Regions from separate parts of the Homo sapiens genome. Here regions 1 and 2 are each linked to region 3. Evidence: fine-mapped expression QTL. A gene starts in region 3. Each other region holds a variant in brackets. All regions are shown on one strand. Distances are between the middles of the regions.

Region 1 (10,625 bases), 82 kb before region 3:
TTTGGGTTTTTTTTTTTTTTTAGACAGGCTCTCACTCTGTCACCTAGGCTGGAGTGTAGTGTTACAATTGTAGCTCACTGCAGCCTTGACCTTCAAAGCAATCCTCCTGCCTCAGTCTCCCAAGTAGCTGGGTCTATAGGTGCATGCTACCACACCTGGCAAATTTTTTTTTACAGATGGAATCTTGCTATGTTGTCCAGGCTGGTCTCCTGGGCTCAAGTGATCCACCCACCTCAGCCTCTCAAAGTGTTAGGATTATAGGCATGAGCCACTATGCCTGGCCAGTACCTTTCATTTAATGGCAGAATTTTTCAGAAACATGTTAAAGATATAGAGTACACCAAGCTAATTTTTTTTTTTTTTTTTGGTACAGACGGAGTCTCACTATGTTGCCCAGGCTTGTCTCAAACTCCTGGGCTCAAGCAATATACCAGCCACAGTATCTCTAAGTGTGGGATTACAGGTGTGAACCACCATGCCTGGGATCATTTATGTCTTAAAAATTTTTTTTTTTTTCTGGCCTGTACCTAACTCCTTTCCTTCTGGAACTCTAGTTACAGGTATGTTAAACTGCTTGATATTGTCCCACAATATCAAGGTTCTATTAATTTTGCTTTTAATATTTTTCTCTCAGTACTTAATTCTGGACAGTTTATATCTATCTTTATAGTTTCTACTGCTTATAGAAACTATAATATATCACACTGTAGTCTAATATGAAACATCAAACTAAAAAAATAAAAACCTCTAACTTTTCTATCTCTTCCTTTTTTAATCAGGGAGAAAATGGAACATTTAAACTCCAAGGCAACTTCTATAAAGTTAAACAGGGTATTATAGAGTTCACCTCAATAAAAATTATTTCCATTTTTTTTTTTGAGGTTGGTAATTTGGCAAAATGTGGCACTACGAGTTCTGGCAGGTAATCAAATAATTTAATAGTTCATATTTACCCCAAAAACACACAAATGCCCATTAATAATTATGCTTAAGAACCTATAGAAGATATACAAGTCCTAAAAGAGCAAAAAAAGTCAGTCTTTGTGGAATTTAGACAAAAATCACTTCTAGATCTGGCCCTTACCTACCTCTTTATTTATTTATTCACTGGATATTTACTAAGCATCTGTTATGCACTAGGCAATGTGGATACAATAACGAATGGGCCAGGTGAGGTCCTGGCTCTCATGGAGCTCACATCTAATGAACAACTTTGTCTCTTGCTTTTCTTCCATATGCTCCTGCTACACAGGAACAACTAGCAGGTCTTCAAATGCACCATGTGACTTCACACTTCTGTTCCTGTCCACGTTATTCTAATTACTTAAACAGGCCCATCACTCCTCCCCTCTTTCGTATTCCAGTACTGCTGATGTCCATCTGGCAGATTTTTATGTGCTCTTCAAGACCCAGCTTCCAGTGTCTCTTCTGTGAAGCTTTTCCTGAAACCCCCACTCAGGCAGAGCTGCTTATTCCTTCCATCATGTCAGCCATGAACTTCACACAAACTTCTTTTACAATGAAATACAGTTATCTGATTACATGACTGTCCCTCACTGGATAAGTATCTCACAGATGTTTTATCTTTGAGATCCTAGAATCTAATAGTGTCTGAGGCATAATATAAGCTCTAATTTTGAAAAAACAGAAACACATGATTGGCAACATGAACAAGTTTTAAAAGGGGGTACTATGATAGATCTCTTCAAATACATTGAACTATTTATGTGTGAGAGAAATTTGCTTTCTTTCTGTATTGCAACTAACATCATAAATAACAACTGTGGCTATAAATTAAGAGAAGTAGAGAGATGGGAGAATTCTACTGGGATGATTCTAATTGTCTGGCAATGGAAATGAGATCCCTTCCACTGGAAATGTTGGAGAGAAAATGATGTTGGAAGAGGAATAGACTTATGATGCTGGAGAGAGGGGAAAAAACATGGAAATAAGGCTGAAGGTTCCTTACAAGTCACCAGAAAACAGCAACCAGAATACACAGAAAAGGAAGGTAACTCTTAAGAGAAAGGATACTTCTTGGAATTGGGAAAAAGGGAGGAGAAAAGAGACAAAAGGATTTTGATATTAAAGAAGAAGGTTTACTCAAGATAGTCTAGATATTACTGGTAAAAGGGAACTTCTCTTGAAACAGTAGAAAAAGAAATGTGGACTGGGGATGTGTGAAAAGAAGACATTTTAGAAACAGTCACTAAGGTAAGGCTCAAGTCAGTGAGACAGCCCAGATATGAAAATGTGCTTCATTTTCAAGGCCCAAAAAAGAGTTTCCAAATTTTAACATTCCTTTCTCTCCGGAAATTCTTTTTTATTTTGAGACAAGAGTCACACTCTGTTGCCCAGGCTGGAGTACACTGGCGTGATCTCGGCACACTGGAAACTCCACCTCCCAGGTTCAGGCGATTCTCCTGCCTCAGCCTCCCAAGTAGCTGGGCACGCGCCACCATGCCCCGCTAATTTTTGTATTTTTAGTAGAGATGGGGTTTTGCCATGATGGCCAGGTGTCTCAAACTCCTGACCTCAAGTGATCCGACTGCCTCAGCCTCCCAAAGTTTTGGGATTACAGGTGTGAGCCACCACACCTGGCCTATGTCCAGAAATTCTTAACATGTAACCCAGTTCACTCAGGTATTAGATTAAGTATGTTTCCTTTTACTCTAAATGCTGTTTGAAAAGCTGGTTAATTTTTCTTTTTTTTTTCTGAGACGGAGTCTCACTCTGTCACCCAGGCTGGAGTGCAGTGGCACAATCTCTGCTCACTGCAAGCTCCGCCTCCTGGGTTCACACCATTCTCCTGCCTCAGCCTCCCGAGTAGCTGGGACTACAGGCACCCACCACCACGCCTGGCTAATTTTTTGTATTTTTAGTAGAGATGGGGTTTCACCATGTTAGCCAGGATGGTCTCGATCTCCTGACCTCGTGATCCACCTGCCTCAGCCTCCCAAAGTGCTGGGACTACAGGCGTGAGCCACCGCGCCCGGCAAAGCTGGTTAATTTTTCTATCAGAACACTTACTAATTCAATACAAGTACTAATAGCATTGCTATCTCCATTAATAAGTAATAACTGTTATAACAGAGAGGACTGTAAGATTAAAAAAACAGAAATATTATAAACAATGGTGCAATTCAAGATGGACACTGGCTGTTTATTTTGTATATCTTCTGTTGAAAGCAAAAATAATAGAATCCTTAATTCATGTAGTTGAAAAGAATATCTGATCTAAACTCCCACCTAATAACCTGCAGTATCTCATAACATTCTATAGTTAATTGCAGAGCTCTGCCTGAGCATTACCACTGATAGGAAACTCAGTACTTCTTGAGGGTCCATTTAATTCTTGGACATTTGGAAAGTTCTTCCAAGAGTGTGGCAAAACAAATAAACAAACCCCAAAACAAAATCCAACTTCTCTCTAACTTCTCATTGTTCCTAATTCTGCCCTCTGAAATGTAACAAAGATCACTGCCCAACTGCCCATGGTGTAGTCAAGGTAGATAAATGGAATATAATAACTGTAAGTAAAAGAAAGGAAGCCAGGCTCACTGGCTTACACCTGTGGTCCTAGTTACTCAGGAGGCTGAGGCAGGAGGACTGCTTGAGTTCAAGAGTTCAATTCCAGCCTAGGCAACATAGTGAGACCCTCCCCCATCTCTATAAAAAATATAAAAACTGAAAAAAGAAAAAATAGGTGCAGTATTAGGGACAATACTTCACTTGTCAAATAGCATTTAGAGTAAAAGGAAACATACTTAATCTAAAACCTGAGTGAATTGGGTTACATGTTAAGAATTTCTGGACATAGGCCAGGCATGGTGGCTCACACCTGTAATCCCAACACTTTGGGAGGCTGAGGCGGGTGGATCACTTGAGGTCAGGAGTTTGAGACCAGCCTGGCCAACATTAGCCAACTATTGACTAAGTCAATAAACACCCGTCCCCTGAATGTTTTAAGAGCAATGAAAATAACCTCTTATATCTTCCTTGATGCTAGGATTCTGTTCAAACCCAGAGGGGTTATGAAAATGGTACAATTCTATTCAGTATTTCTTCAGATGAAATACACCATTAGATAAAATAACATGTGATTCTATAGCCAAACAACAATCCATTAAAAAGACAAGTGACAGCTCAACCCTGTCTCCAGGAACATTTGTCTCCTATGCTTTTATCCTTCATGGATTTGAGTTGAATGACATTTGCTGCACGTTGATAATTAGTTTTTCTTTCTTTTTCTAAAAAAAAAAAAAAAAAAAAGCAGCAGAGGCCAGTGTTGGCCTCTTCCCCAGGAGAGATACCAGCCTGAGTGGTTTGGGGATACATGCCTTGATGAGATTTGCACTATGACTCTTGAATGCATGCACCATCCCAGCAACACCTGCTCTCCTGACAGGCCACCTGGGACTGACAGAAAAAAGAACCATCAATTCCACTCTCCCCAGAGAGAACACCCAGACCCAGTGCTAAATGTACAATTCAATGTCATGTCAAAAAAGTAAAATTCCATCCACCAAAACCTACCAATTACCAGAGGTCAATATTTAGAGGACCTTAATAATGAAAATTGGCATAGAATTTTATTTTTTCCCAAGTGAATTGCAATCCAGCTAGATATTCAGGAAAATACCCCTTACACCAAGGGAAAAAGATGGGAAAAAGTGAAATTCCTTAATCAAACTGTGTGATCAACATATTGCTAAAGCCTTGAATTTTGGGTTCTATTTCCCATCATGAGACAGAAATATAGTTGCTTCCCACCCAGAAAATGAATTATATATTTTGGATTTTTTGGGCACACAGATTTCATGACACAAAACTGAAAATATGTGAGCAATAACGTTTTAATTTAAAGATCTTGGCCGGGCGCGGTGGCTCATGCCTGTAATCCCAGCACTTTGGGAGGCAAGTGGGCGGATCACCTGAGGTCAGGAGTTCGCGACCAGCCTGACCAACACGGAGAAACCCCATCTCTACTAAAAATGCAAAATTAGCCAGCGTGGTGGCGCATGTCTATAATCCCAGCTACTCTAGAGGCTGAGACAGGAGAATCGCTTGAAGTCAGGAGGCGGAGGTTGCGGTGAGCTGAGATCGCGCCATTGCACTCCAACCTGGGCAACGAGAGCAAAACTCTGTCTTAAAAAAAATAAAAAATAACTTAATTGTTAAAAATAGATGAAATAGCTGGGCGCAGTGGCTCACGCCTGTAATCCCAGCACTTTGGGAGGCTGAGGTGGGCAGATCACCTGAGGTCAGGAGTTCGAGACCAGCCTGATCAACATGGAGAAACCCCGTCTCCAGTAAAAATACAAAATTAGCCGGGAATGGTGGCGCATGCCTGTAATCCCAGCTACTCAGGAAGCTGAGGCAGGAGAATTGCTTGAAGCCGGGAGGTGGAAGTTGCGGTGAGCTGAGATCATGCCATTGCACCCTAGCCTGGGCAAGAAGAACGAAACTCTGTCTCAAAAAAAAAAAAAATTGGTGAAATAGGTAATCGGAGGGACAGAGACTGGATATTGTAACATTTTTGGAAACAAGGCTAAACAATGTTTAATAAGAAAATAGGCCCAGCACAGTGGCTCACACCTGTAATCCCAACACTTTGGGAGGCGGAGGTGGGCGGATCACTTGAGGCCAGGAGTTCGATAGCACCCTGGCCAACATGGTGAAACCCCATCTCTATCAAAAATACAAAAATTAGTCAGGCGTGGTGGCATGTGCCTGTAATCCCAGCTACTTGGGAAGCTGAGGCAGGAGAATCGCTTGAACCCTGGAGATGGAGGTTGCAGGGAGCCAAGATTGTGCCACTGTGTACTTCAGTCTGGGTGACTGAGACTCTGTCTCAAAAAAAAAAAAAAAGAAAAGAAAACCTGTAATTCTCCATTAACTCCTTCCCATGGCAATCACTTTCACTCTGTTTAGCTGATTCTTTTATATTACCTTTATGTCTTAAATGACTAAATAATATGCCTGTATTCCTAGGAATGAACCAAAGGAATGAAAAAAAAAGTGCCTGTATTGCTACCTCCTGATTTTTCAATTTGAGGCATTTTCTATTGACTTCCCCCAATACAGGAAGTGATAACTTGACTCTTTTTTTCCCCCTTCCCACCTTAATTCCTCATAATACACATGACATGCATCCTATCTCCTATCTTCTCAGGGTTATACATGGTAACTTAAATTAACATTCAGTTTCTACATTATTATGATTATACAAATACTATTTATAGCTAAGGCATATTATTAACTATGATTACTTTTCCTTACTTGCACATTTTTTTTTGTTTTCCCTGAGTTTTTCAGTTTGCTTGGTTT[T/G]CTCTGTACTTATCTCTAAATCAACCACAGAATCGACTATGTCTGTCTGCTGTCTAAACTTAAGATATTGAAACGTGGTAAATCATGCGATTTATCAATTTTACCTTCTTGAAGGCATATTCTGTTTTCTCCAAGTTGCCTTCCATTCATTGCCTTCAGTCCTTATTTTTCATTTTAGGGGCTTTTCTCAAACATTGGTAATTTCTTTTCCTATGTAAGAATAGGAGACTAAAAAGCTGCTTGAAAACTCAAGTAGGAGCTAGGCTTGTTGACTGTAAGCTTTGCTACAGTGTGATCAGGCTGTTTAGTTGTAGAACTTCCAGTGTCAGTGCCTTTATTCTTCTTGGGCTGATCAGATTCCCCAGATTAGTCTCTTCTAATTTCCTGACCGGAGAGTGAAGGCCTGGGTGTGGAGGGAGAGATGGCCTCAGCATATAATGCGTGCATAATTTGCTACATTTTCAGTGCAGGCCGGGCATGGTGGCTCACACCTGTAATCCCAGCACTTTGGGAGCCCGAAGCAGGCGGATCACTTGAAGTCAGGAGTTCGAGACCAGCCTGGACAACATGGTGAAACCCTGTCTCTACCAAAAAATATAAAAATTAGCTGGGCATGGTGGTGCCTGCCTGTACTCCCAGCTACTCAGGAGGCTGAGATGGGAGAATCCCTTGAACCCAGGAGACAGAGGTTGCAGTGAGCCGAGATCGTGTCACTCCACTCCAGCCTAGGTGACAGAGTGAGACCCTGTCTCAAAAGCAAAAAAAAACAAAAACGGCTGGGCGCAGTGGCTCACGCCTGTAATCCCAGCACTTTGGGAGGCCGAGGCAGGCGGATCACGAGGTCAGAAGATGGAGACCATCCTAGCTAATACGGTGAAACCCCATCTCTACTAAAAATACAAAAAATTAGCCGGGCATGGTGGCGGGCACCTGTAGTCCCAGCTACTCCGGAGGCTGAGGCAGGAGAATGGCGTGAACCCGGGAGGCGGAGCTTGCAGTGAGCCGAGATTGCGCCACTGCACTCCAGCCTGGTCGACAGCACGAGTCTCTGTCTCAAAAAAAAAAAAAAATTTCAGTACAGACCCCATCTTCCACTGGTCTAGTATCCACCGGTTGAGTAACCATTGTGTTTTAACTTTAGAGAATAAAGCTCCAGTCTTTTGTGGGAGAGAATAAAGCAGGTGATATAGGTATGTGACTCCTAAATACACTTTAATCCTCCTTATTTAAGCCATCTCCTCCTTCACCTGTACCACCAATCTTCAGCCTTTGAAGTTTCGTGAACTGCCTTGGTTCTTGGCTTTCCTCACTTTGTATTATTTTTCATAGGCTTGCTAAATTCACATACTTTCCACCTTCCAAAATCTTGCTGCTGTTGTCATCTCTCTTGTTCTCTCCTTGAGGGCTCTTATATTTTTTAAAAAAATTGTTTTAGTAGGGTTTCGAAAGAAAAGCCAGAGTGTACATTAAAACCATCATTAACCTTAAAGTGCCCTCCACATTTATTTTTCACTTCAGATGTCTTTAGCTTTTTCCATGATTATAACTGTTTTGTCATCCCCCCCACTCCTACCTTGGTTTTGTTTTTACATTTCTAATGTTAGCTATATTCTTTCTAGAGAGCGAGAGACAACTGGCAGACTATTAATAGCTTCTGAAAAAGTAGCAACGGAGGCTGGGTGCAGTGGCTCACGCTTGTAACCCAAACACTTTGGGAGGCAGAGAGGTGGATGGATTGCTTGAGGTAAGAAGTTTGAGACCAGCCCGGGCAATATGGTGAAACCCCGTCTCTACAAAAATACAAAAATTAGCTGGGCATGGTGGTGTGCACCTGTAGTCCCAGCTACCTGGAGGCTGAGGTGAAAGGATGGCTTGAGCCCAGGAGGTTGAGGCTGCAGTGAGCTGAGATTGTACCACTGTACTCCAAGCCTGCAGACAGAGCCAGACCCCGTCTCAAAACAAGAACAAAAAAGAAGGTAGCAAGGGAGAATAGAAAGGGTAAGTGCCTACCTGTTCCTTGACTGCTTTGATGGCTATGTTTCCATTTTCTTACTTAATTGTAAATATAAAATGATTCCATCTATTCAACATGCATTCGTATAGTCCTATTCTGTAATATACAGAAGTAATATAAAGCACAGTCCCTGAGTTCACTACAAGGGCCTTACAATTTAGCTGAGAAGACAAGCATAAATAACAATTGAAGAACAAATAAGGTTGTTAGGAAAGGTGCTAATGGAAGACAGGAAGAGGAGAGCTCAATGTCGTTAAAAAGAGAAAAGTTGGGAGAGAATATAACAATTCAAGAAAAATGAAATGATTAGAAGAGAAAATTAGTCATACATGAAATTAAGAAAATTCGGCTGGGCGCAGTGGCTCACACCTGTAATCTCAGCACTTTTGGTGGATGAGGTGGGTGGATCCCTTGAGCCCATGAGTTTGAGACCAGCCTGGGCAACATAATGATACCCCATCTCTAATATTTTTTTTTCAATAAAAAAATAAATAAATAAGGAAAGTAAGAAAATTCAATGTGGCTAAGAGGGTGGGAGAGCAATCTTTTTTTTTTTTTTTTTTTTGTGAGATGGAGTCTTGCTTTGTTGCTCAGGCTGGAGTACAGTGGCGATTTCCTCTCACTGCAACCTACATCTCCTGGTTTCAAGCGATTCTCCTGCCCCAGCCTCCCAAGCAGCTGGGATTACAGGTGTGCACCACCAAGCCCAGCTAATTTTTGTATTTTTAGTAGAGACGAGATTTCACCATATTGGCCACGCTAGTCTCAAACTCCTGATCTCAAATGATCTGTCCACCTCAGCCTCCCAAAGTGCTGGGATTACAGGCGGCAATTTTTTATTCACACTTATGCTTTGTTATCTTCCAATTACTGTCAGATTTTTTATTTTTGAAAATTTTGTTAAAACCTGTTAATTGAATGATAGTTATCAACCCCATGATGCAAAATAAAGTTAACTTGTAATATTTAAAGTTACACAAAAATTTTACTCACTGTGCCAGTTATCCATTTACTGTCTCTCGCTTCCTAACTCACCCTTTGCCCTGCTTTGTGATACTGGAGTTGGACCCAACAGCAGGCTACATTTCTTCTCTGTCACTTAGCCTGGTGCTTTGCTTTGCCAATAAAGGGCACTGGAGGGAGGCTGCAAAGCTGAGGCAGGAAAAAGGCCTTTTCTTCCTTCTTGCACCGTGTGGCTCTTCTGTGCAGCGACAAGCAGGTTGGCGTGCAGGGTCTCAGCTATGTTCACCTTGGCAATGGCAGTCCTTACAGTTCAGTGGTGGGGCTCCCTCCCCCAAAGATTCTTCACTGCCATCAGGTGGGCTGCTCCGGCAATGCACCGGCAGAGTGTTCCCGTGGCCATGTGTTTTCCCTTCAGAGGGCTGAACCTCAGCCTTGTGGGGACCTCCACTAAGTTCCTCTGTTGACTCTCCTTCAGTCCTAGGGGTTAGCAGCTTTCTGCTACCTCTGTACACCGTTGACTCTTCTTTTCCTTTCAGAAGTTAACCACCTTTCACCTAATTAACATTTTTTATTTTAAATTTTCCCTGTTCAGACCGGGCACGGTGGCTGACGCCGGTAATCCCAGCACTTTTGAGAGGCCAAGGAGGGTGGATCACCTGAGGTCAGGAGTTTGAGACCAGCCTGGCCAATGTGGCAAAATCTCATCTCTACTAAAAATACAAAAATTAGCTGGGCATGGTGGTGCATGCCTGTAGTCCCAGCTACTTGGGAGGTTGAGGCAGGAGAATCGCTTGAACCCAGGAGGCGGAGGTTGCAGTGAGCCGAGATCATGCACTGCACTCCAGCATGGGCAACAGAGTGAGACTCTGTCATAAATAAATAAATAAATAAATTTTTCCCTGTTCAAATTACTCCTGACTGTTCTTGGCTAATATGATTACCCTAAAAGACCAAATATATGAAACACAATGTGATACTAATTAAGGTCTATCCCCAAATCCTAATGTTAAGACAATCATGAATATAAGGTTACCCAAACCATAAGTTCTATGTACTGAAAAACATGATGAGTAAAGAACAAACTATGTCAAAGCAAGTTCTGTATTTTGTTAAGATAAAATTACAAGATTAGTGGCTGACGAGAACGCAAAAGATGAAATAACCTGATTATAAGAAAGCATTTAATATTGCTTCTCCTGGCATCTTCCTTGCAAAATTAATTAAAACTAGCTAGGATATATGAGTCTCATGAATTGAAAACTGGCCTCAAGACCACAAGGAGTGATTATAAACTGCCTTAAATCACACTGAGCAAAGT
Region 2 (10,625 bases), 120 kb before region 3:
TCTGCAAAAAATACAAAAATTAGCCAGATGTGGTGGCACGTGCTTGTGGTCCCAACTACTTTGGAGGCTGAGGCAGGAGGACTGCTTGAGCCCAGAAGGCAGAGGTTGCAGCGAGCTGAGATCGTGCCACTGCACTCTAGCCTTGGTGACAGAGGGAGACCCTGTCTCACCAAAAAAAGGAAGGAAGGAAGGGAGGGAGGGAGGGAGGCAGGGAGGGGGGAGGGGGAGGAGTGGGGGAAGGAGGGAAGGGAAGGGAAGGGAAAGGAAAAAGAAAACTATCTGGAGGAATGTGGAGGACTGGTGGGTTAGGGGTAGGAGGTTATGACTGAATCAAACAGGGAAGTGTGTTCCTGTGCAGTGATTGGAAAAGCATGGATGCTCAGAAAATACTAGGACTACAAAGATTAGCAAAGTACAGTGATTTGAGGCTTATGTATGCCAAGTTCAGTATCAGTTCAGAAACTTGCCAATGTCACAAAGTATACCTTTCCCTCCCTTGCTTAATGCCACTGTCTGTAGAGTCAACAATGGTTTCTACTGAGTGTCCATGCTGGCACAGGGCCTCAGTGGGTGGAAGGATGGGGGTAGGAGAAATAGTAAACTGTCAGCTCTTCTGAAGGGTTACAGAAATGGTATTCTGCTTAACTGACTAGTCAAGGTAACCAGAAGTTACTATATTTTCCCTATAGGGATTGCCAATGTTTTTTTTGTTTGTCGTTTGTTTTTGTGTGAGACAGTCTCACTCTGTCACCCAGTGTGGAGTGCAGTGGTGCAATCTCAGATCACTGCAACTTCTGCCTCCCAGGTTCAAGCAATTCCCTTCCCTCAGCCTCCTGAGTAGCTGGGAGTACAGGCACCTGCCACCCTGCACAGCTAAATTTTTTTGTATTTTTTCATTTTTTTTTTATAGTAGAGACGGGGTTTTGCCATGTTGGCCAGGCTGGTCTTGAACTCCTGACTTCAAGTGATCCACCCGCCTCAGCCTCCCAAAGTGCTGGGATTACAGGTGTGAGCCACCATGTCCGGCCTAGGGATTGTCAATTTTTAACAAATGTGAGTATAATAAAAAATTAAATACTACATGGAATCTGTTTTATAGATCTATCCATCAAGCAATTATATACGTAATGGGTAAGATATGCCATGCACCATTCTCAACACTTTGCAATACTCGTTTAATCTCTACAGCTACCCTAGTAGTTAGGTGCTATTTGCACCCAGGCAGCCTGACTTCAGAGCCTGTGCCCTTATCCATGATGCTGATATGACTCTTTAAAGTGGAAAAAGTCCTAAGGAAACCAAGGCTTAGAGAGAAGTAACTTACACAAGATCACCCCTGCCTCTCTCTCAAAATCCAAGCACTTACTATATCTTAGACCAGCAATGAGGCTATGAACACCGAATGTCAAGGCACAGTTCATTCTTTCAACAAATGCTTATTTTAGCACCTATTATGTGCCAGGTAGTTCTGTTTATAACCAAAGAAACTGTAGGAAATTGAACAAATTTGGATCAATTCTTTGGCATGTCCCAAAAGTTATTTTTAAAAGTCAAATCTTATCATTATCCTCTCTGTGCCTCAGAAAACTGAAGGTAGAAAAACAATGCAACTCTGATTACTTGAGTTTTTTGGCTCCTCAGATTCTACATAACTGAATCTCCTTTGGTATTGGAGGTCACTTTCAGAAACATCAGGTATAGAGATCGAGACAGAAAGCAGAGGGCAAGAGAGAGATGAAAATATGTGAGCCCAATTCTGCTCCGAACTTGGGTTTAATTGAGATTCCAACTGCCACTCTCCCCTGCATTCCTTTGTCCCTGGCTATGACCAAGTTTACGGCTGTATCGCCCCAAGTAATCCCCGTAATGGGCTGCAATCCTGGGGGAGCTGTTTTTGTTCATTAAGTGACCAACCTCTGAGCCACATGGAGCGCGGCCAGTTACAGCTTCTTGCCCTGGCAGATGGGCCACTTTTCTGTTTTAAAAAAACAGGGATCTTTCAGGAGAGAGGAGATAGTAGGCAGGGGTTGGGGACACAATCAGGGACATAAAGGTGATGGGTGCTAGAAATGAAGGCCAGAGTGAGGGGGGCAGTGGGTGCCCCTTCCAGGTCATGCAGTCTTCTAGGGCAGAATTCACTCACGTGCTGTGTGTTAGCTTTCTTTGCAATGGTAACTATAGTTGTGTAGGGCTTACAGTTTGTGAAGGGCTCAATGTAGTTCCTGGAGTGATGCTACCAGTCTGCAGAGGTGGGAGGAGTGAGGGGGCCATAGACAGGAGGCAGCGAATGAACAGAGTAGGGCAAATAGCTGAGAGGGGGCTTCCCCTGAGGGTCAGAAATTCTCAGTGCTTCAGACTCCAGCTCAAGTGACAGGGGCCAGGCTGTGCCAAGAGCAGTTCTCTCAAGCCAACTGACTCTTACCTCTCTGCCCACAGCCCCAGTGTCTGCTTCTTGAAGTTGGGGAAACATTGCAGCAGCTGCTTGTTGGGAGACCCGTCCCCTCACTGCACTGCCCCACCCCCTCCCCGCCACCTGCCCCACCACCCCATGTCTGTCCTCTGGGTAGAGTTGTGTGAAGCGGAAGACAATTTGGGGCTTATTAGTGTCCCAGGGAGACATGTAACTTGTGTTGCTGGGACCCAAACAGCAAGAGTCTTAGCGGCAAACTCCAGCCGAGAAAAGACTGAGGAATTGTCTCACCTAATTACAGGGAATGGCCCTCTTTGTGTTTGTGATTCGGTACGGTTGTCCGATCGCTTTTGATCGCTTTTCTCTATTTGCTGGCTCAGGCCATGCTGGAATTGTGCTAATTAGAAGAGAAATGGACAGAGTGATCCTGTCAGCCCTGGTTACTGGTGGGGACAAAGCAGAATATTATTCTGAGGCAGTGTTTTGTGAGGGCCCTTCTTCCAGCTCTCATTAGGAGGAAGGGGCCCACAGGAGGGGAAGGTTCCAAATGCCTGGCCCAGCTAATGGAGCACTGGGGTGTTTCTGTGCTAATTAACAGGCTTTGCCAGCACTCACGCCAACCAGGAGCCTCACAGTTACACCTGGTATCGTCTGAAGCCCCCAGCTGCTCGAGAGGAAAAAGCGCCAGGCAAAGGGTGGGAAGGCCAGTGGCCTCTTTAGGCATAGACAAGGACACACACCCCAAATGCCAAAAAGCCTACATAGATAGGAAAAATCAGTTCCAGTCCATCAGAACTTACAACCGTGGAGACACCACCCTTTGCCACTCTCTGGGGTTGGGGGTTGCAAGACTCTCTGGTGAAACAAAGCCCACATAGGGACCAGGTATCCTTGTAGCTCTCACGAGATGAAGAAAACAGAAAATGGAGAACATAACCAAATTCTTGGAGACGGAGTTAGTGCAGAAGCTGAGAACTGGTAAGAGACTGTGTTATTTGGCTTCTGCGACCATCCACCTTGGCCCAACTGTCCATTTCCTCACTTCCTGCTCTGCCTGTTCACCTTCTTGTGATGTCTTAATCCTGGAGGAAACAGGAGGGGTCAGGGAATCCCACTGGAAATGAAATTTCTCGGCTTCATTTCAAAGCTCCTGTGGAAGTCCAAACACACTTCTGAAGCCACAGGGACAAGGGAATGACTTTCATCAGTTCCATTTTCACTGCCTTGATCTGGGAGCATCCAGAAGAGCAGCTAGAGAACTAAAACCACGGAGCAGTTAGCAAGCATCCATTTAAAAAATATGACAAAAATGGAAAGATAAAAATGAATGATGGCATTTCAATATCAACACAATTAATACCCTGTGAACTTTAAGTGTTCTAACCTATGGAAGGCAGGCCAAGCAAATCAGCAGAGGCCTAGAATCTGTGAGACTGAAGACAGCAAGAAATAATGAGAGTGCTGGTAAGAAAAAAATGTCAATAAGAATTTGCAAATGTGTCTCCAAGCTCCAATACTATGCTTTTCAGAATGTTGCTGCTCACAGCTGACAGATGCTTTACAGGATGGTATTTGGAATGGCAAAGGAAAAGGGAAAAAATATCTGTAGGCAAATAATAAACAATTACTTACCGTAAAAATAGTCTCTAAAGACTTAGAACACTCCTAACACTGTCCCTACTTAGTCAATCAGCCATGCTTTTCTAGATCACAGAAATCTACTGTTCATCCAGATGTCTTTTTTGGAAATAAATGATGGGCCTATGATGAGAAGCAATTTGCTTTCCTTAAAATGAAATGCTTTCTTTAAAAGGGCATATTCTGGTCCAGAGCAGGTAAACTATCAATGAGTGATAGCAGTAGCAATAATGAGTACTTCCTCTTTTCTAGTTCTTGAACATGGTTGAAAAGGAACCCACACTAAGGGATTTAGAAGATGGCAGATAAATACTTGTTTTCAATCTATCATGTGTAACCAGAAGCCTGCAAGCAAACAGGTTTTGAACCCCTAGTTCAAAGACACTGAAGAACTAGATGTGCAGGAGACAGCTATACCTTGAGAAGCTTTGAATTTAGTAGGGCAATAAGATATGTACTCAGTGTCAGGCGTAGTGGCTCACACCTGTAATCCCAGCACTTTGGGAGGCCGAGGCGGGAGGATCACTTGAGGCCAGGAGTTCGAGACCAGCCTGGCCAACTTGGCAAAAACCCGTCTCTACTAAAAATACAAAAATTAGCTGGGCGTGGTGGCATGCACCTGTAATCCCAGCTACTAGGGTGGCTGAGGCAGAGAATCGCTTGAACCCGGGAGGCAGAGGTTGCAGTGAGCCAAAATTGCACCACTGCACTCCAGCCTGGGCAACAGAGTGAGACTCTGTCTCAAAAAGAAAAAGTACTCAGACCACTTAAATATAAGGCAGACTATGGTAAGAGTCACAGGGATGATATGGGTAAATGCTATAGGAATGTAGGGGAAGGACCATTTCCAGCTGGATCATCAGGAGATTATAGGAAGCATAGGTTTGCCAGATGCAAAAGGGATCCAAGACCTTCTAGGAACTCAAAGGCAGGAGCAAAGGCACTCAAGTGAGAAACTGGGAACTGTTCAGAGTAACTGCAACAGAGACTTCATATATAGGAGAGGAAGAAAACGAAACGGAAGGGTTGCTTAGGATTACATGTAGAGAGTCTTAAAATGCCGGGTCAAGAGATTGAGACTTTATTAGTAGACACGGGAAGGTATTAAGGGTTTCTAAATACTACTTTCGGGTGTTGGGCAGTGGTAGGATAGAATGGAAGGCAGGAGACCAAGTAGATGACTGTAAAGCCCCCAACTATCCATTAAGTATATTAAGGGGGAAAACAGTAGATTATTTATCATTACAGTTGTACTTTCTGGGGAGGTCTGTGCTTTAAATATCCAACTCGGCCCTCTGAGGAAAAACTCACCCTCCTGTAAAAGGGACATATTTATTATGAAGACACAAAAACCATCACATACAAAGTACAATACTATAACATCCTGAAATACATATACACACATACTGTACATAAATTTATATTATCAATATAAAAATACATCATTAACATTTCTAAGGATGACAAATACTAAACCAATAAATATTGCAATTCTAAAACATCTACTTACATTAAGTGCTGGTGAATAGGATGACGGTAAAAGAAAGAGGACAAAGCGGACCAGAAAACCAACCACCTGGCTTCCAGTTACAGACTTGAGTTGGTTTGGGGGAGGTATCCCAATCAATTTCCCCAAACACTGAAAAGTGCCTGATGTCATCAACTCTCAAAAACAGAGCAAAGGAAGAATTTGACATTATGGCACTATTTTTTGGCCACATGCGCGCGCGCACACACACACACACACTCTTCAACCGCATTTAGTGAGATACAGAAATATCAATCGATAATAAGTTTAAATTAAAATCAAAGCCCCTACAACCTAACCTTCTATGTAGCACCCCAGCAGAATGTTTTACTTCTCATACTCATCTTTCCTATCTTGTGTTAAGTCTTTTTTCCTTTCAATAAGTAAAACTACATTGATGGTCAAATGAGAGAAAAATCCAGCATTAATTCTAGCATGAGAACAAGGCACAAATGTCAGAAAAGGTTTAATGGATCAGCTGTTAAACTGAAGAGTGCCATGCCCTAGCAAACACTCACGACTCAAAACCATAACTTTTCTTGTGTCCAAACACCATCAGACTATTGCCACAGGGATATTCTTTTTTTTTTTTTTTTTTTTTTTTTTTTTCTGAGACAGAGTCTCACTCTGTTGCCCAGGCTGGAGTGCAGTGGCATAATTTCGGCTCACTGCAACCTCCACCTCCCGAATTCAAGCGATTCTCGTGCCTCAGGCCCCCAAGTAGCTGGGACTATAGGCATGCACCATCA[T/C]GCCCAGCTAATTTTTGTATTTTAGTAGAGACAGGGTTTCACCATATTGGCCAGGATGGTCTCGATCTTTTGACCTATGATCCACCTGCCTCGGCCTCCCAAAGTGCTGGGATTACAGGCGTGAGCCACCATGCCCGGCCCCAGGATATTCTTTTGTGCAAAGTTTAGGAAACTCCATGCACTTCTCAAAACATCAGATGCTGGGGACTGGCTTATACAAGAAATATGGAGAACACATATAATAGATTTTAGCCATGGGCTAGATTTTCAGATTTTAACAGAGACAGATAAGTGGTGAAGAACTCCATGAAAGTTGTATTTAAGTCAGAAGATTCTTTTTCGTGTGTGTGCGTTTCTATTATATAGATGAACTATTTCATATGTGCTGTCAGAGGGGACAATCCCACCATCCCATAGCATGTTACTTTAAGGTCAATTAGGGCTTCTAGCTTTCAACCAAATGGGAACTCCTATAAACCATCCCGTTTCTCTTGTCTTTCAGGCTATACTGACTTTCTTGCTTGAAGCTGTAACAGATTAATTAGAACTCAAAAGTCCTTTCTGTCACCTTCACATTGGTCTTTAGACAACCTTGGATGGGCCTTTCACTATACAAGCTAATTCCAGGAGGGACTCAGGGATCCCTCTGCCCGAAGTCAGAACTAGAAGGTGGGGCTGGGAAGTAAGGAATGAAAAGCAAATGGGACTATCATAAGAGGTATAGAAGTTTTAAAAAACAGATATACATTTCGAGAAGATTCTGGTTTCTTCAGCTGGGGATTCTGGGAACTTAGTATATACTGGAGAGTTCACAGGTCAGGCTGCATGGTCTGGTCCAGAATCTACTTGGTCTCTGGTCTCCTCACATCGTAAACACTTTCTAAGAGATCAAGAACAATTCAAAAGAACCCATCCAATCAACATGTCACAACTGACTGCCATGACTGAGTCAAATCAACCGTAAGATCCTGGGGCTCCTGAATCACTTCCAGAAATGAGAAAGCAGGACTTCGACCTTTAAGAATGATATGCCCTCAGCTGTTACCAATATCCGAGGCTAAGAAGGTTCAAGTCTGAAAGTTGATTGAGTAACTGCAATGATCCTTGGGTAGAGCAGATTCTTCTCTTGCTGCTGAATGTCCTCAGACGTGTAGAGTGCCAGGAGCAGGGGAGAGGGCAGTCCTGGAGGTACACCCTCTGGCCTCTCCCAAGCAAGCAGTGAGGTGTGCATTGTTAGAGGTGCACCGGGAAGGGAGCTTGGTTTCGGACCCCAGGACATCCTGTCCGCAAGCAGCTGCTACTTCTTGGGCTTCTCTAGAATATTGAGGAATTTCCCCCGTGTCATCTCTCTGGCTGGAATCACAAAGCAAACAAATGATCAATGAAAACCTAAAATCGGAAAAAAGAATCATAGGAAGATTTAATTTAAAAATGCAGATTGATTTAAATTATATATCAAGTTGCTATCACAACAGATTCAATCATCACCAACTAACCTAAAAGGGGGTAAAAACAAACCACTATAGACAACTAAAACTGTACAAAGCTATTCTGAAGTTGGCAATTGAGATACATGCCAAATGACTGGGAAAGATTTTATCATCCACCTTTAAACAAATCACCAGGGGATTCCCCCAAAACCTATCTCTGTCTCTAGAATCTAACCTAATACTCATGTTCACTATCTCAGGGGGTTTGCTCTTGAAGCCTAAAATCCAACCAAGATTAGTCTTCTCTGGGTTGCTGGTCTCTGGACATTTATAATCTCAAATCAAAATTAGAGATCATTTACCCTATCTCTCAGCAGTGTTAGTCCCTGGATACTGTAATATAACAGGGTTTATATTCCCTCAGTGCAGTTCATCTGTGGATGGTGTCATAAAGTAGGGTTTATAGAGCTTTGGTCTTCTCTCCCTTGGCATTGTCAGTCCTTAGCTATTTAATATAGCCAGCCAAGGTTTATGTGTCTTTCTCCGGCTTTCAGCACCATCAATCTTTGAATGCTATAGTTACAAGTGGGTTTATACAGCTACTTTCCTACATATAAGGCTCCAAAATGAAAGTAAAACATTTCTCAATTACAAGGGCTACTCCAGAGGTCTCCCATTTTAGATCTCAGAAAGCATACGTAGTGTAACAGCCCCTTCCTCATCCTCATCCTCATCCTGCAAGGCCATGTTTTCAGATTTCTTAAATGGATTTAACAGTGCAGAAAGTTTCTGATCGCTGATGGCTGGCTCTGGAAGCCAGGCCTTCTGGAACCATGCAGTAGGCACGGGGTAGGCTGTGTGGTCTCCCAAGAACACATCTCCGTCCTGGCCAAAGAAGTGAGGTGGCTAGGGAGGCACTCTCAGGAATGAGAAGGACCTTCACCCTGGCCTCCTTGTTGCCTTTCCCAAGTCCAGAGCAAATGGAGCTAGATGAATGGCCTCCAGCTCCCCTCTGCCCCAATTTAAGTTTAACAGTTTCTTGTTTTCTTGTACAATGAAGAAATAAAAACTACACAACCTCTGGGACCACAGGGAGGCTTTTGTAACTTCAGTCTATACATTCCCCATCTTTCACTAGTTCCTGTGCCCCAACAAAGGGAAAGGAAATTCCATTAACTAGGCATAGAAGCCCAGTGTTGGGTCTTGCCTCATGTGCTCACAACCCCAACCCAGACCAAATCAAACAGACCATTCCTTCCTTCATGGATTTACAGCAAATCCTGTACAAGAAAGTTCCCATAAGACTTGCATGCAATTACTAGCTTATATGGTTGTCTTCCTCCACTAAAATGTAAAAACTGAAGGCAGAGACTGTTAAGAGCTTTGGTCTTCTCTCCCTTGGCAAAAGATCCACAATCAGATCCAAACTCCAGAGCACGTGCTCTCCTGTTCACTTGTCATCAGAGATGTTAACATTTCTGATTAATTCATATAGCCCTTATTTTATTCCTCATTTCTTTATCCTTGCTCTGCTGCACTGCGAAGATTCTTACCGACCTGCTACAGACTCAGCAGACCTAGTGTCTGCTGAGTAAGTGTTGACTGGATAAATTATAATACACCAAAGAACTAGAACCAAGTAGAAATGCAAAAAATGTTAGTTTCCTTCCTTTCCATTAACAAATATGACTAGTTAGTGGCCCTCAGTGCTCCATTCTCTACATGATGGGAGTCTTTTTAAATGTGCCTTGCTTATTTGGCAAGAAAATCATTTCCCTTAATGCAAATAATGCCAAGTTCATGGAGAGACTGGGGTCAAGGACTAACTACTCTAGAGAAAATCCAATCAAGTACTGTCTTGCCCATAGGAGGTAGCATGGGCTTCTTGCAGAGAACACAGGATTTGAACTCAGTTTAAGTTTCAGCTCTAGCACTTAGCAGCAGGGTGACACCTTGGGCTGGGCAGATCTCTGAGCCTCAGTCTCTTCATTTGTAACGGAGAGCATGTTAATACCCTACTTTTCTCTTGGATATTAGCAATGAACATGCTTGGTATAGTGCTAATCATTAACACAACACTTTCCAGAGGGGGGTAAGTTCTCTCGCACTTAGTATTTTCTGAGTGAGTGAATGAATGAATGAATGAATGAACAAACTGCACAAAGGGAGGCTAGCAAACAAAACTCCGTTCCTTGGAATCTTTTCCCTCAGCTTGAAGGAAAAGAAATTTACTTATACTTTTGGGCAGATTGGGTCTCACTTATTTCTACTAGATGGGTTATCTGTCTACTCTCAAGTTTAAACATGTAACTAATGATCCTGCAACATGGCTAGAAGCAGGAGCTCTGGAAACCAGACACGGTCAATACAAAAGTCTTCTGGAGAGAATAGAGCCTTGTTCCAAAAATCCTGGGCCTGGAGCACTGCATTGCTCTAACCAATGATTTCTGCCTGCTGACCTTCAGACTCACCAACTCCTTACTGTTTTTCCCCAAATGGGAAAATGACCAATATTTTAAGACTTAGAATTTTAAAAGATCCACACAATTTAAGGGGTCAAAAGGGTTTAAAAGGAAAAATAAATAGATATTCTGAAGTCTCTCAGTGGCAAGCTCTCCTTGAATTTAACCAATCCTTTTTAACAACCCTTTTTCTACTCAATCATTCCTCCCCCTTCAACCTAATCCAAGTACACAGAGCTGCAGGAAACCACTGTAAAAGTAGAAGTAATTCAAAAGACATCATCTCCTACATGGGAGGAGAGAAAGTTTTCCTACTCGCCAGTCCCATACAGGAGATATACGAATGTATGACACAGCCGCTCCCTAAAAGAGGGCTGTGCCCTATAAATCAGATGCTAAGCACCAACC
Region 3 (10,625 bases):
ACCCCTGTCGTATGTCCTGCGGTTAGGGAACTCCCCTATTTCAACATGAGGACTTTTATCTTCATCTGTATGCCAATGACTCCATATTTATATTTCCATTCCCAACCTTTCTAAAGAACTACAAAGGTTTATGTCCAAGTGGTTATTTGAATCCCTCTCTATTTACATATAAAAAAACTGCTTAAGGCCAGATGCAGTGGTGCACGCCTGTAATCCCAGCAGTTTTGGGAGGCCGAGGTGGGTGGATTGCTTGAGCTCACGAGTTTGAGACCAGCCTGGCCAACATAGTGAAAACCCATCTCTACAAAAAGCAAAAAAATTAGCCAGGTGTGGTGGTGTCAGCCTGTAGTCCCAGCTACTTGGGAGGCTGAGGTGGAAGGATGGCTTGAGCCCAGAGGTGGCAGCTGCAGTTAGCTAAGGTCACACCACTGCACTCCAGCCTGGGTGATAGAGCCACATCCTGTCTCAAAAAAAAAAAAAAAATCCCCACTTAAACTTTAAACCTAATTATCTTCAAAACCATATTCCCCCAATCTTCTCCCATCTCAAGAAATAACACTACCATAAATTCCAATTCTCAGATCAAAAACCCAGATGTCATCCTTCATGCATTCTTTTCCTTCACCCTTCCATAACCAATCCATGAGTAAATCTAGTCGTTTCTACCTTCAGAATACACCCTGAAATCAAATAACCCAAGGAACCATCACTTCTTTCTTGGACTACTTCAACAGCCTCTTAACAGATCTCTCTGCTCCCATTCTTACCCTTTCCCCTTCACACCCCCGGAATCTATTCTCCATAAAGAGGCCAGAATTGATTTTTTTAAACGTCAATCAGTTCGTGTCTCTCTCCAGCTTAAAGTTCCTCCCAGCTAAATCTGTGAATGTGTATCTACCACACTCTATAAAATCTTACTCAGCCTCTACCTAATTCTTTGACATCATTTCTCTTCCACTCTTCCCTTGCACACAGTAGTACTCAATATTAACATTTGTTGAGTTTTTATTGTATGCTCAGTATGCTAACCAGTTGCATAACTAGTTCATTTAATGCTATAAACAGCAGTTCTTAACATTTTCTGGGTAACCACATCTCTGGAAATCTGGGAAATAAAATGAACTCACTCCCCAGAAAATATACATACGTACAAAATGTACTTTTCTCTAAACTGAATTTGTTTTGCCAAATATTCCAAAGGAATTTCCAATGGCATTTTAATTGTAAAGAACTCAACTAATACATTGCCTTAATTAAAGCATCCAAAAATTAGCTTCTCTTTGTTACCGATTTCTGAGGAATGTTCAACCATAACAAAAGTAAAGTTATTGGGCCAGGTACAGTGGCTCATGTCTGGAATCCCAGTGCTTTGGGAAGCCGAGGCAGGAAGATTGCTTGAGCCCAGGAGTTTGAGACCATCCTGGGCAACATAGTGAGACTCCATCTCTACAAAAAATAATAAGGTGGGGGCATGGTGGCTCACGCCTGTAATCCTAGCACTTTGGGAGGCCGAGGTGAGTGCATCACCTGAGGTCAGGAGTTCAAGACTAGCCTGGGCAACATGGTGAAACCCCGTCTCTACTCAAAATACAAAAATTAGCCAGGTGTGGTGGCGTGTGCCTGTTATCCCAGCTACTGGAGAGGCTGATGCATGAGAATTACTTGAACCCAGGAGGCGGAGGTTGCAGTGACCCGAGATCATGCCACAGCACTCCAGCCTGGGTGACAGAGTGAGACTCCGTCTCAAAACAAAATAAATAATAATAATAATAAATTAGCTGGGCATGGTGGTGTGAGCCTATAGTACCAGCTACTTAGGAGGCTGAGATGGGAGAATCGCTTGAGCCTTTGAGGGTGCAGTGAGCTATAATCATATCACTGCATTTCAGCATGGGCAATAGAGTGAGAGAGACCCTGTCTCTAAAAGAAAGTTAAAAAAAAATTATTGGGGGTACAATCTAATAACCTACATGGGTGACCTTATGATACCACAGTCTGGGATAGAACTCAGACTCTGCTGTGAGTCTTACTCTCATAAATTAAGTAATTAGATGGCTGTATTTGAATTTCAGTTTTCTCCTTTTCAAAGACGCTCCAGCAAATTTATCACGAAAAAGACAAAAGAGTAAATGACAAACATATTAAAATAAATATTATCTGAATTAAATTTTAAAGACAGTGACAGGTGGAACACTAAAAATAGAAGTGAAAGAGCTAGGCCGTGGAATATTTTGGAATGAGATACTTATTTAGAAGCTGAATTTAAGTTCAAAGTGCTTGACTTGATTTTTTCAGATTAAAAAGAAAACATTAGGTGGAGAGGAGTGAAACTTTGTAAGAGATGAGAATGAAAACTTAAAAATCAAGAGTGCAAATAAAGTGACCATAGAGATGGCTAGAAAAGGAAAAAAATTTAATTTTTTTTTTTTTTTTTTTTTTTGCAATGGAGTCTCGCTCTGTCCCAGGCTGGAGTGCAGTGGCGTGATCTCGGCTCACTGCAAGCTCTGCCTCCCGGGTTCACGCCATTCTCCTGCCTCAGCCTCCTGAGTAGCTGGGACTACAGGCACCCACCACCACGCCTGGCTAATTTTTTGTATTTTTTAGTAGAGACAGGGTTTCACTGTGTTAGCCAGGATGGTCTCGATCTCCTGACCTCGTGATCCACCCATCTCGCCCTCCCAAAGTGCTGGGATTACAGGCGTGAGCCACCACGCCAAGCCAAATTTAATGTTTTTAATACTCTTCCTGGCCAAAGAAAGGAAACTAAATTGAGAGATGACAGGGGAAAAAAATCAAACTCAAGGAACACATCTCTAAAATCCCCAAAGTTTGTAAAAACAATTTAAAAATAAACTAAAAAGTTTAATAACAATTACTTCTACTTGTATTACTTGGCTTTTTTTTTCAACTGTGGTGAAATATACATAAATTTTACCATTTTAATAACTTTTAAGTATACATTTCAGTGGTATTAAGTACATTAATTGTGCAATCATCACATTCATTTCCAGAATTCTTTCACCTTCCCAAACTGAAATTTGGTACCCATTAACAATAACTCCCTATTCCCTTGCCTGACTTTTTAAATGCCCTTCTTTCTGGCAAGAGAAGGACATTTTTGCAAGAGCGCACCCAGGCAGGAGAATCTCTTTTGACTCCAAACATCCATAATTTCTTTTTTTTTCCTTCTTTTTTTTCTGAGACGGGGTCTCGCTTTGTCACACAGACTGGAGTGCAGTGGCATGAACATGGTTCACTGCCGCCTCCACCCCCTGGGCTCAAGAGATTCTCTTGCCTCAGCCCCCCCAAGTAGCTGGGACTACAGGTTTGTGGCATCACACCCAGATAATTTTTGTATTTTTTTGTAGAGATGGGGTTTCACCATGTTGTCTAGGCTGGTCTTCAATTCCTGAGCTCAGGCGATCTGCCTGCCTCAGCCTCCCAAAGTGCTGGGATTAGAAGTGTGAACCACCACGCCCAGCCATAATTTCTAATACAGTATGTACCTGCGCTCACAAAATTTAAGACTCGGTTAAACTTAAAACTTAAGATCAAGTAATATATTATTTCTGCATATATCTAATCAATCTTTCAATAAATGTTAATTAAAGACCTACTGTTCGTCAGGCACTGTGCTAAACCTGGATCCAACTATGAACAAGACAAACTTGGAATTTACAATCTAGCGCAAAAGGGGCAAAGTTAACAGAGTAACTATGCTGACAAGGAAGATACTGAGATAATGAATAATGGTGGGAAAGGGCAACTCCAGATACTGTGTTCTAAGAAAGACTCTTTGGGAGGTGACATCTAAAAAGAGAACTGAAACTGAAAAAAAAAAATGTTTATATGTTTGAGTCATCTTTTGGTCTCCCAAAGCACCTAGCATTATGCCTTTCATGTAGCAGGTACTTAATATAGCTCACCTTGGCTTCAATTTCTTCATTCCTGCAATGAACTTCCAAGATTCCTTCCAAATATAAAATGTTTTTGTCTAAGGGAAGGAAACCTATATATCAATAAAATCGATATATAGTTGGGATGAGGATGGTAGAACTAAAAATGAGTTTAAAAATGACTGCAAGACCCTAACTCTCTAAAGCAGAACCAAGAGGAAAAGCATGGGAGTATACCAAAACAACTTAATTGTTACTTGAAATGACTTGCATTTTACACAATATATAAACAGAAATCGTTAATTCACTCAGCCTTAAGAAACAACACGTAAAGCAGATGGAAGACAGGTTGCGACCTGTGCAAGACGACACTTAAAAGCTCAATACTGATTCTCCTCGCGACTCTCAGGGCGAGGGGCCGAGAACGTCCCCCGCTTCTCTTGCTGCCACGGCAATGGTCCCAAACTGAGGAGACAGGAGAGAGATCATGTTTCTCTTGCGGTTCAGTATCGAGATGAGGTCAGCCAGCAGCCCTGCGAGGGTTTGTGAGAATCATTCCATCCGTGCGCTCAATCAGAAGAGAACTGATCCTTTCAATGGGTACCCCAAGGAAAAAACTACAGTAAGCCACGTCCTCCAGAAACATCTCCTCCTCGACCCTCAGCCTCGCCCAAATAGAGATAAGGAAGGCACAGGGCGACCCCCCTGTCCTTTTACCCAGAATGAGTCCCTCCCTAGTGCCCTCCTCCACACGCCTGGTACAGAGCGGGGAAACTGGGCACCTCCGGAGCTGCTGTGAAGAACCGGTGAGCTGAAGACGGCGATGGATCTCAAGAAAAAAAATAAAAGGGAAAGGAGAAGAGCCCAAGAAAGAAATGTATGTTCGAGGGGCAGAGACAGAGTGGATGTTCCCAGTAGAGCAAAGAAGGAGGCTGCAGGCAAAGATCTCTAAGCCGGCTCTTACCGTCTGTGGGAGACGCCATCTTCCAACCCATGTCACGTGACGTGGCCAACCGTCGGCGGGAAAACGAGGTTCCATAAGCCACGCCCCCAAAGAGAAACCCTATCCCCAACTCGCAGCCCAGTCTCATTCCCTCGCCTCATAGGGCAATCTTTGCCTAGCCCCGCCCCTAAGTATAGCCACGCCCCTTACGCGGATGTTGAGGTGGAGCGACTGCAAAATTCTTGAAGGGTCTTATTTACTTTTTTCAGTGGGGGGGTGGGGCCTCGGTTCCGCCCTTGGCCAATCGGAGTTCCAGGTTAGGGGGGCGTCTTCCCCGTGTGCTCGGTAGGGAGTGTCCAAGTCAGGGGCGTCTTCTCTACCTCCGCCTACGTCATTGGCTGAGGTGGCAGAGGGCGAGAGCATTTTCGCTCCTAACCAATCACTTATCCCCAGGACGGGGGTGTGAGGAGAGGAATCAGGTGTTCGGACCAGTGATTGGCTGGAGAAAATAGTCCTCCCCACCAATGAGGAAGCCTGGCAGGATGGAGGGCGAGGCCTGGCAGCTGTAGTGCTTCTGGGCAGTAGAGGCGCGGGGTGCGGAGCTAGGGCGGCCGAGAGCCATGGCGGCGCTATTGGCGGCGGCGGCAGTGCGAGCCCGGATCCTGCAGGCGAGTGAGGGTGGTGCCAAGGCACCATGAAGCTAGGAATTGGATCCTTTCCGTCCGCTCCCTGAGCCATCCTCGGGCGGGACCACCTTCTTGGCCCAACCCCTTTTTGGCCAGACCTCCTACCCGACCTGTGCGGCCCTGTCCCATGCCCAGCCCTCACTTCATAACCTCCCTGGTCCCGGATCCAACCCTGGGCTGTTACCCTTGGCCCTCTACCCTTTTACTCCTAAGCCTCCTCTTTTCTGGCTCTCGCCCACTCTCCTTCTCCAGCTCTGCCCGCTCCCTGCTGTCACTCTCTTGCCCTCATCTCTCCATCCGCCCACCGTCTTTCCTTTTTACCTCTGCACCAGCCTTCTCTCTCTCCCCCAGAAACTACTCTTTTTGGTTACTCTGTCCCCTGCCGTGAGCGTCCACTTTGCCATTGCTCCCTTCCCCCACCCTACTTCACTATCCGTGGTGATCTGAGGTAAGGGGGAGGGGGGACGCGAGGGGCGAGGGTCAGTGTATGAACTTTGAATTTCCTTCTAGAGGTGGACTCTAGATTTTCACCAAAGGCAGCCATTTGCTAAGCTATTTTCCCTAAGTGTGGCTCTTTGTATTTTCCATGGACTGGCTGTCCCCTTTCTTGCCAAAACTTTGAGTTAAACTTTTTCTCAGCTAAGTTACAGTTTACATAGATAGGGCACATCTACATAGATAGGGTAGATAAGGGCACACAGTTAAAGCTACCAGTATGTTCCATGTATGTTCAAGGTACCAAACATCTTTAAAACGGGTGATAGAAAGTGGGAGCCAGGTAAGACAAGAAGTCTAAGTTCCCACCCCAAAATCAGCTCTTCTAGTGCTACACACCCTCATCTCTGCACTTGGGGGATTGAGTCCTCTCTGAAGCCAACCTAAGGAGAAATGGTAAAGCTACAGGAGTTGCATGCCTGAGGCCTGTAATCTCCAACTCTGTTTATAGTCTTTCCCCTGTTCATGGCCTACCAAGGATTTAGAGTATGTGGCAAGATTTACCGCAGGCAAGAAACAGTCTGCAAGAAACAACAGTGCCGTTCTTATTCATTACATCCAGTCTGAGAATTTCCTCTATATTGCTGAGCTTTTAGGTAATATTAGTATTCACCAGGTTTCCGTGAGTTCTAGTAAAGAAACTTGGGCAGTTTTAAGATTCTTGGCAGAGTCAGCAAAGATTCATTTTTAAATATGCTATTTAATGGGGAAGGTAGAAAGGATGAGTTTGAAGGGTTTGGCAGATGGTCTGGCCTCACTCATATTTCTTGCTGCGATCCTTGTTCTGTTCTAGTATCTTTTTTTAGTAGCAGGAAAACAAAGTTTCCACCCTATATTTTTCTTACCAACTTCTTGAAATCTTTTACTGAAATTGGCTTTTTTCCTTTGCCTCCTCTTCCCCTCCCATCACAATGAGTCATTGAGAACCTTAAGAAAGTATTTTGTCCTTTTCCATCAAGGAGAAGAATCTCTCTTTCCATGTACTTTTATTTCAGAAACAGACACTATGTATTTTCTGATTCATTTGGAGAAACTTCTGAAGTGACCTGGAAAAGAACAGATAGAGTAATCCTCAGCCAACTAGGAGTTGTAACGTGAATCTTTGATTAAAAGTTCGATAAAAAGTAGCCTACGGGCCAGGCGCTGTAGCTCCTGCCTGTAATCCCTGCACTTTGGGAGGCCAAGGTGGGTGGATCACCTGAGGTCAGGAGTTCGAGACCAGCCTGACCAACATGGTAAAACCCCTTCTCTACTAAAAATACAAAAATTAGCCGGGTGTGGTGGCGGGCGACTGTAATCCCAGCTACTCAGGAAGTTGAGGCAGGAGAATCGCTTGAACCCGGAAGACGGAGGTTGCAGTGAGCTGAGATCGTGCCATTGCACTCCAGCCTGGGCGACAGAGCAAGACTCCATCAAAAAAAAAAAAAAAAAAAAAAAAAACCTCGATTTTGGCAGCCATGAATATTAGAGAACTATCAAAAGGATTTATAGAGGAGAAAGTTAATGTTTTCAATTATTTTAAGTATTCAGCTTATTTTTCTCTGCCACGAAGAGTAGTCAAACTTAACCTAAAACCTCTCTCTGCTCCTTGTGATATTATCACTCCCATGCAGAGATAAAGGAATGTTCGAGACAGGGTCTCGCTCTGTCACCCAGGCTGGAGTGCAGTGGTGCAATCACAACTCACAGCAGCCTCGACCTCCCACGCTGAAGTGATTCTTCCATCTCAGCCCTCCGAGTAGCTGCAACAACAGATCGTGCCCCCATGCCAGCTAATTTTTGTATTTTTTGTAGAGACAGGGTTTCACCATGTTGCCCAGGCTGGTCTTGAACTCTTAAACTCAAGCTATCCTCCCACCTCAGCCTCCCAAAGTGTTGGGACTACAGGCACGAACCGCTGCACCTGGGCAAGAAAATTACTCTTGAAGAGATGTAGCGACTTGCACTGTCGGTGATATGGTTACCGAACTAGTAACTGATGGGGCTGAAAATTCAGAACTTAAGTCTTGCCATCTCTTTCTATGTTAGGCACTGACATAGGCTTACAGTAAAATGCTCACTGAAAGCTCCTTTATTGTACTGCAATAAGTGATAAACAATAGGAGTATCTGGGATACTGTGGGGACCTAGGGAAAGAGCCAAGTATTGCAGGACTAGCAGGCCATGAACCAGGAGAGGAAGGAGTTCCTTATAAAGGATATAGCAAGTAGGAAGTAAACATCTAGAGAGCAGCAGTTTGGGGTGACTGGCCACAGGATAGTTTCTTCAGCAACAATGCTAATGGGTGTTTCTTAGGAAATGAAGAAAAGATAGAAGATCGAACCTGTCAAAAAACTATATGAATATGTTCTATTATACCAGATGTAGTGCTTTTTACATCCTCTTAACAGCAGGGAGGCTGTATACAAGTGAAAAAATAAAATTTAAGTGGCCTAGAATGCTCAAGTTGGCTGATCAGTGCATTGTCTGCCAACTTGAGAGTACTGAAACAATATCAAATGATTGCTTGGCGAGTACTCATTCTTTCATTGTGCAAAATATTGCTTACTAAGTACTTACTCTCTTCCAGGAATTGTGCTAGGGGCTGGGGACACAACAATCTAGTGACCTCAAAGGAGAGAAAGTTAATCATTAGACAAGCTATTATTTCATAGCGTGAGATGAGAAATAAAGGAATTTGGGTGCTTTATGAGCTTCACAATCAGCTGCTTACCATAGACCTGAGGTTGAGACTTCCTAGAGAAAGTGATGATGGCTGAGTGGGGACCTAAAGGAGTAGGAATGAGCCAAGGAAATTAGATGAAACAGTGCCAGGCAAGAGAGAGCAGCATGTGCAAGAGCAAAGAAAGCAAGACACACGTTAAATTGCAGGAGCATAGAGAACAGGGAGGAAAGTAGCCAGTTATGTAACTAGAAAAGCAAAGATACTATGTAGCGTTTTCTAAGCAACATCAAGGGGATTAGTCTTTATTCCAAGGGCAGTGGAAAGCCAAAGAAGAATTTTAAACAAGGGAATAATCTGACCAGATTTATGTTTCAGAAAGACCCTCTGATTATGGGATGGAAACTAGATTCAGAAAGTTTAAGAGTAGGCTGGGTGTGATGGCTCATGCCTGTAATCCCAACACTTTGGGTGGCCCAGGCAGGAGGATCGCTTGAGGCTAAGAGTTCAAAACCAGCCCTGGCAAGATAGGGAGGCCCCATCTCTACAAAAAAAAATTTTTTTTAATTAGCTGGGCATGGTGGCATGTGCCTGTACTCCTAGGTACTTGGGAGACTGAGGCAAGAGGATCACTTGAGCCTGAGAGCGAGGTCGTGTGCACCTGTGGTCCCAGGTACTTGGGAGGCTAAGGCAGGAGGATCACCTAAGCCCTGGAGATTGAGGCTACAGTGAGCTGTGGTTGTGCCACTGCACTCTAGCCTGGGTGACAGAGTGAGACTCTGTCTCAAAAAAAAAAAAAAAAAGAAAGAGTTTAACATTAGAGGCTGAGAGATGTGTTAGGAAGCTATTATGGAAGGTCAAGTGAGAGACAATGATGGTATAGACTGGGATAATGGCAGGACAGCTAGAGGTGAGTGATGTGTTTCAAACAATTCTAGGACAGACTGCCAGGAGTTTTTTGCTTCCCTGCAGAGAGAGAGGGAGGAATTGGAATAGTATCTGGGTTTCTCCTTTGGCAACTTGTTAAGGAGTAGCCCTATTTACCGAGAGGTGGGCTATAGGAGGCATAGCAAACTGGCAAAAGGAAGATGCAGAGTTTAGCTTTTGCTTTTGTTTTTTGGTTTTTGTTTTTTTAAGATAGGGTCTCGCTCTGTCACCCAGGCTGGAGTGCAGTGGCACAATCGCAGCTCACTGTAGCCTCAATCTCCAAGGCTTAGGTGATCCTCCTGCCTTAGCCTCCCAAGTACCTGGGACCACAGGTGCACATGACCATGCCCAACTAATTTTTAAAATTATCCGTAGAGGTCACATGTCGTGGCTCACACCTGTCATCCCAGAACTTTGGGAGGCCAAGGTGGGCAGATCATTTGAGGCCAGGAGTTCAAGACCAGCCTGGCCAACATGACAAAACCGCATCTCCACTAAAAATACAAAAAATTAGGCCAGGCGCAGTGGCTCACGCCTGTAATCCCAGCACTTTGGGAGGCTGAGGCGGGCGGATCATGAGGTCAGGAGATCGAGACCATCCTGGCTAACATGGTGAAACCCCATCTCTACTAAAAATACAAAAAACTAGCCAGGCATGGTGGCGGGCGCCTGTAGTCCCAGTTACTCAAGAGGCTGAGGCAGGAGAAGGTGTGAACCCAGGAGGCGGAGCTTGCGGTGAGCCAAGATCGCGCAACTGCACTCCAGCCTGGGCGACAGAGTGAGACTCTGTCTCAAAAAAAGAAAAAAAAAAAAAACAATAAGAAAAAAAAATTAGCCGGGTGTGGTGGCATATGCCTGTAATCCCAGCTACTCAGGAGGCTGAGGCAGGAGAATCGCCTGAACCCGGGAGGTGGAGGTTGCAGTGAGCCGAGATTGCGCCATTGTACTCCATTGAGTGCAGGCAGGTCTCAAATTCCTGAACGCAAGTGATCTTCCCACCTCAGCCTCCCAAAGTG

Alleles and levels. Positions count from the first base shown, and alleles are read on the strand shown. Sizes are in standard deviations (SD) of each study's normalised expression.
As copies of G replace T in region 1, the expression in pancreas of the gene that starts at base 4,898 in region 3 goes down (moderate effect, 0.42 SD a copy in GTEx).
For the expression in nucleus accumbens of the gene that starts at base 4,898 in region 3, C is the low allele of the variant in region 2 and T is the other (moderate effect, 0.42 SD a copy in GTEx).

What was found. PIP is the estimated chance that this variant, and not a neighbour inherited with it, causes the effect. A credible set is the group of variants that fine-mapping cannot tell apart.
Region 1: its variant is the best candidate, but not a certain one, in a credible set for the expression of LIN52 in pancreas (GTEx, PIP 0.89).
Region 2: its variant is the best candidate, but not a certain one, in a credible set for the expression of LIN52 in nucleus accumbens (GTEx, PIP 0.89).

Annotation. Positions count from the first base shown.
Region 1 is chr14:74,160,760-74,171,384 of GRCh38, reverse strand. The region is part of intron 5 of LIN52 (lin-52 DREAM MuvB core complex component); the gene reads right to left. Among named protein-coding and RNA genes, the nearest start is that of VSX2, 73 kb to the left of the region's middle. The variant T/G (reference allele first, on the strand shown) is at 6,331.
Region 2 is chr14:74,195,975-74,206,599 of GRCh38, reverse strand. LIN52 (lin-52 DREAM MuvB core complex component) reads right to left here. Exons shown (of 6, transcript NM_001024674.3): 6 at 5,107-7,678. The coding sequence ends at 7,623. Among named protein-coding and RNA genes, the nearest start is that of VSX2, 38 kb to the left of the region's middle. RefSeq lists a silencer at 4,227-4,427. The variant T/C (reference allele first, on the strand shown) is at 6,326.
Region 3 is chr14:74,079,229-74,089,853 of GRCh38, reverse strand. LIN52 (lin-52 DREAM MuvB core complex component) reads right to left here and starts at 4,898. Exons shown (of 6, transcript NM_001024674.3): 1 at 4,861-4,898. The coding sequence starts at 4,879. It overlaps ALDH6A1 (aldehyde dehydrogenase 6 family member A1), which reads left to right and starts at 5,401. Exons shown (of 12, transcript NM_005589.4): 1 at 5,401-5,507. The coding sequence starts at 5,460. It also overlaps a transcript of BBOF1 not described here. RefSeq lists enhancers at 3,780-3,869, 4,810-4,989.